Regions from separate parts of the Homo sapiens genome. Here region 2 is linked to region 1. Evidence: fine-mapped expression QTL. A gene starts in region 1. The other region holds a variant in brackets. All regions are shown on one strand. Distances are from middle to middle. Region 1 holds the start of ZNF337 (zinc finger protein 337). Region 2 has its middle 42 kb from the start of LINC01733.

What was found. PIP is the estimated chance that this variant, and not a neighbour inherited with it, causes the effect. A credible set is the group of variants that fine-mapping cannot tell apart.
Region 2: its variant is the best candidate, but not a certain one, in a credible set for the expression of ZNF337 in whole blood (TOPMed, PIP 0.63).

The regions. Positions count from the first base shown.
Region 1 is chr20:25,695,367-25,698,280 of GRCh38, reverse strand. It overlaps ZNF337 (zinc finger protein 337), which reads left to right and starts at 1,428. Exons shown (of 5, transcript NM_015655.4): 1 at 1,428-1,522. It overlaps LOC107985400 (a long non-coding RNA gene), which reads right to left and starts at 1,240. Exons shown (of 2, transcript XR_007067557.1): 1 at 1,118-1,240. RefSeq lists an enhancer at 1,915-2,024.
Region 2 is chr20:25,996,653-25,999,566 of GRCh38, reverse strand. No RefSeq gene overlaps it. Among named protein-coding and RNA genes, the nearest start is that of LINC01733, 42 kb to the right of the region's middle. RefSeq lists a silencer at 10-194. The variant G/T (reference allele first, on the strand shown) is at 1,354.

The DNA of each region.
Region 1 (2,914 bases):
TCATGTTTACTACAGCACTATCCAAAATAGTAAAGATATAGAATCAAAGTGTCTATCAACAGATGAATGGATAAGGAAAGTGTGGTACATTAACACAATGGGATATTAGCCAGTCATTAAAAGAATGAAATTCTGTCATTTTCAATAGCATGTATGAAAATGGAGGACATTATGTTAAGCGAAATGAGGCACAGCATGACAAATATCACATGTGCTCACTCATTTGTGGGGCTAAAAACGTGAACTCATGGAGATGGAGAGTAGAATGAGATAGTTAACAGAGGCTGGGAAGGATGGTGGGTAGAGGAGATAAAGAGGGACTTGTTAATCGATACAAAAATACAGTTAGAATGAATAAGATCTAGTAGTTGGTAGCACTATACAGTGACTATAGTTAAGAACAATTTTACTATATATTTAAAAATAAGAGAGAATTGGAAACTTCCTAAAACAAAGAAATGCTAAATGCTTGAGGGGATGGATACCCCAATCACCCTCATTTGACCATTAAACACTGTATGCCTGTATCAAAACATAACATGTACCCTATAAATATGTACAACTAATATTTATCCAGAATAATTAAAAATTTAAAAACCAAAAGAGAAAAAGCAAACAGCAAGTATACCTAGTAAAGGCCTGAAATATAAAGTCTACGTGGTTTGGCAAGCCACAAAAGATATCAGCATATTATACACCCTACATAATGAAAGAATTCTGGCATTGATGCATAATTAGATAAATGGGGGAACAATTAGAAATTGAAATGCAAATGTAAATTGAGTATACTGAATTATGTAGCTGAAACCTTAAATTATTTGGTAAAAGACTATATTTTTAATAAATTTAATGGGAAATTAATAAAATATTAGAAAATTTTAAAAATAATTGTATATTTACAGTGTGTACCTGGAGAAAAATTAAACCATTGAGAGATCTAAATGTGAATGATAAAACCACAAAATCCGTAGGAAAATCAGAGATCAAAAGTACTACATAGCAAAAAAAAGAAACAAAAGAAAAAAAAAAGACATACCCATAATCAAAAGACAGTGGGAAAATTATTTACCTATATCATAGAAATGGGAAAATATGCTTAATGTATGTATAGGGCTACCTAAATAAAAGAAATCGCCGGTTCTGAAAGGATCCCTCCACGTCCAAACGACCATAGGCTCGCCCCACCTGTCAGAGAGGAGTCCTTCCGAGAAGTCCTTCCAAGGATTCCGGGTCGCGCAGTCCCGGGTGGACCGCTATGACCAATATTCTGGGGCGTGTACCTGGACGACTCCCGAGGACTCTGGGGAGTGTAGTCCACCGAGGGGATGCGACGCGCAGGGTCGCATAGCCTCCGGGCCGCGCCGAGGATGCTGGGTAGCGTAGTCCCGGCCGCGCTGAGGATTCTGGGTAGTGTAGTCCCGGGCGGCGCAGAGCGTTCCAGATCCCTGGGCGTCAGCGAGCCGTGAGATGCGTGGTCCACCATCGGTGACCTCACCGCCTCGGTTCGCCCTCAGCCGCCCCGGTGAGCTGCGCTCCTGCGGGTCCCTCTCTGCAGCGCGCCCTTCCGGCGCAGGAAGAAGGGCCGGGAAGGCCTGGGACGTGAGGGCGCTGCTGGGGCCGTAGCGCGCGCTCCTCCAGGCCCGGCGTCTCCGCGTTCTGGGGAGGGGCGGAGACCCAGGCCGCGCCTTGAAGTGGGCGGTGGGGCTGCGGCTTGCCGAGCGCCCCGGGTCTGGGCCGCCACTCAGTCTCCGTTCCCGGTTGCGTGTAGTGGCGGCTCGGGCGGTGAACAGCCCGGATTTCACAGGGGCGCCGAGCAACCCAGGTCCTCTTGTGCCAGGGTCGCCGCTCCTCGGGTGGGGACGGGCCAGCGGCCTAGCGAGCTGCCACGGGGGTCTTTTGGCCGGAGGTGGAGGGGGACTCGGCCACAGCCAGGGTCCACTGGTGGGGTGGGGGTTACAGCCATGAGACGGATGGGCTAGGTCCGACTCGGGTTCCCTCCGACTCTGATGCTCCAGACTTTATTGTGGGAGGCGGGACAGGGGAGGACTTCGCCCGCGTGTTTTGGGGAAGGGCCGCTGCTTTGGGTTGGGAGCACCCCGCCTTGGGACGATCTTCCGCGGATAGGAGTGTAGGCCGGGACCAAATGTCCTCGCACGGGCACGTCTAGACGTGTTTTGGTGGGGGGGGGGGGGGATCTGCGTGGGGCAGCGTCCGCGGGAGGTGAGGTGGCTGTGGGGACCCAGGTGGCCTCTTCCCTGGGGCCTTGCTAATGACGGCAAAATCCGGGTTCTGCCAAAATATATTTAAAAAGGTTTATTCCTAGTCAGTATGAGTGACTGTGGCCCAGGTTATTCAGCCTCAAGAGGTCCTGTGAAAGTGCCCGAGATGGTCAGGCTTGCAGGTTAATTTTATACAATTCAGGGAGACAGGAATTTCAGGTAAAGTCATAAATCAGGCTGAGCAGTGTGGCTCATGCCTGTAGTCCCAGCACTTTGGGAGGCCAGGAGTTCCAGAGCAGCCTGGGCAGCACAGCAAGACCCTGTCTCTACATGAAATTAGAAAAATAAAAAAATTAGCGGGGCGTGGTGTCCCATGCCTGTGGCCTCAGCTACTTGGGAGGCCCAGTCAGTTGAGTCCAGGAGGTGGAGGCTGTAACCAGCTATGTTGGCTGCACTGCACGCTAGCCTGGGTAACACAGCGAGATCCTGCCTCCAAAAAGAAAATCATAAATCAATAAGAGAAAGATATACACGGGTTCCTCCCAAAAAGCTGGTATATCTCCAAAGGGTTTACACCTCATGGGGGCACTTAGGGATTCTTTAGTGGACAGTTGGTTGAGAGACTTAAGCTACTGCCTGAAGACTGGAATCAGAAGCATGCCAGAGTTAAGGGGATTGCGTAGATCAAAGTTCTT
Region 2 (2,914 bases), 300 kb before region 1:
ATCTTTCTTTTTTTCTTTCTTTCTTTATCTTTATTTATTTATTTATTTATTGAGATGGAATCTCACTCTGTCGCCCAGGTGGGAGTGAAGTAATGCAATTTCGGCTCCCTGTAACTTTCATCTCCCAGGTTCAAGTGATTCTCATGCCTCCACCTCCCAAGTAGCTTGGAATACAAGCGTCCACCACGCCCAGATAATTTTTGTGTTTTTTGTAGTGATGGGGTTTCACTATGTTGGTCAGGGTAGTCTTGAACTCCTGACCTCAAATGATCCACCCGGTTCAGTCTCCCAAAGTGCTGGAATTACATGCGTGAGCCACCACACCTGAGCTGTATATGCCATTGTATGATTGCAAATAATTATATGAATCTTGGAGAACATCATGGAAAGATGTTCATCATCTTGTTAACTGGTTATTTCAAGAGTGGAGCTGGAAGGGGAATACTGCCTTTCCTGTGTATTTATTTGTAATGTTTCATTTTCATTATGAACATGTATTATTTTAATATGTTTAAATATTAATAAACACAGGCAAAAATATGTAATTTTAATTCAAGCTGAAATCGTCAAGGCAATCATACATAACAGATGGAGCAAATAAAACATTTAAAATCCCTGAGTGAAAAGGAGGGGAGGCTGGGCATGGTGGCTCACGCCTATAATCCCAGCACTTTGGGAGGCCGAAACAGGAAGATCACTTGGGGTCAGAAGTTTGAGACTGCCTTGGCCAACTGAGACCCCTGGACTCGATTGGAATTGGTCCCACAAACTTTTTTTTTTGAGGGAGTCTCACACTGTCACCCAGGGTGGAGTGCAATGGGGCAATCTCGGCTCACTACAACCTCTGCTCCTGGGTTCAAGTGATTCTCCTGCCTCAGCCTCCCTAGTAGCTCGGACTTCAGGTGTCCGCCACAACACCTGGCTAATTTTTTTCTATTTTTAGTAGGGACAGGGTTTCACAATGTTGGTCAGGCTGGTCTCAAACTCCTGACTTCAGGTGATCCACCAGCCTCTCAAAGTGCTAGGATTACAGGTGGGAGCCATCACACCCCACCAATCCCACAAATTTAGGCATTATGATAATCGGAGCCACCATGCCCCACCAATTACACATATTTAGGCATTATGATATATTGTTACTTTTAGAATCACTTGGTTTTTATATTGTGTTTTTTCCCTTCCATTTGTTTGTTTATTTATTTATTTATTTATTGAGACAGAGACTCGCTGTGTCACCCAGCCTGGAGTGCAGTGGCGTGATCTTGGCTCACTGCAACCTCCACCTCCCGGCACTCCATCTCCACCACACTGGCAACTAACATGCCTCCTCAGGCCCTCTCAGGGTCTAGAGAG[G/T]GCGTCTGGAACAGACTGGGAAACTCCAGTAGGCAAAGTAAGGTGCCAGAAATAAAGACACCACCTGAAACATTCTCCATGTTCCCTCCACCCACTCCTCTCCCACCACTCTTCCATCTGGCTCCAACTCTGCCCTCTCCACAAGAGCCTCAGATTGAAATGTTGCAAGGAAGACAAAGATTCTCAAAGTCACAGGCTTGGGAATCTGAGCTATAAAGAAAAATGAGCCTCTGCTCCCCCAACTCCCCCATACTCCCCTGGGCACTGCTGCCCTACATGCACCCCCTCCTCCATAATTTGAACTGTCCTCCCAGAAGCTGGAGGGAGACTGCCCGCCTGTCAGGAAAGAAAGGACCAGCATGCGGCAAATGCCTGGGCTACATAGGAGCAGACGGCGAGATTAGCGCAGGGATTTAAGAAACAAGTGGCTCTCAGACCAAAGAAGACTTGCCCGAGATGGCACACTAAGCATTCATAGGGGTGTGCGCTGGACAGGAGCTTGCCAGTTACCCAAAGAATTGTCTGAGAAAGGCTCTGATCTGGCCCGAAAGGCCCTTGGTTCCCACGGCAACTCCTCAGCGTCTGGCAGTAATAGGCTTCTGTGCCCAGACTTTCTGGGTCTGGAAGTCCCCCTCTGCCAGCCTCTTGCAGCCCAGAGGCACCTCCCATTGGCGCCTGATGGGTTAAGGAAGCTGTTCTTCTAGCTGTGACAGATCAAGCCTGAGGACCTCTCGTGTGTCTTTCTTAGTTGTTTCTTCCCGCCCACCTGCCACTCAAAGCCACAACCCACTTGCATGCCCCCGAGTGGACCCCTTAAAGCGACCATCTAGATCTGAATTGCGCTGAGGGAATGGTCAGCTTCATTCCCATTAGATGGCTTGGCCCAAAGGAACTAGCGATCGCCCAGACAAAAATGTCTTCCTAAAAGCTGGATGTGTCTGTGGTCTCTAAGAGGCAAAACCAAACCCAAAAGGAAAAGCCAACCCACCCACCCCCACCATAAAACAAAAACCAAAACCGCCGACAACCCATCTTTCACATGAGGAGTCCGTGAGAAGGGCCTCTCCAGCCAGGATCAGGTAAGGGAATCTGTGCCCTTGGCCGGACCCAGAACACCCAGTGGCAAGGAACTGACTGTCACACTCTGACCCCATAGAATTTCCACCATTGTCACACAGGTCAGGATGTGTCAGCCTGAGAGATGACACCACAAATCTGGCCTTCACAGATTGATTCCACACTCTCTCACTGATTCCACACACATCCCGCCACTGACACCAGATTCCCTCATCACTGACCCTACATACCCACAAGAATTGATTCCATGGATCTCATCACTATCCAAAAGACCACCCATCACTAATCTACAGACCCTCATCTCTCACCCCAGGGACCCCACAGATTCCCCATCCCTGATTCCAGGATCTATAGAACCTCATCTCTTACCCCCACAGACCTATTTATAAGAGGATACGTTCATGGAATACCATGTTGACCATTTTACACATCCATTGCGTGTGTGTGTGTGTGTGCTGATTAATGGACTTAGGTAAACTTTAGC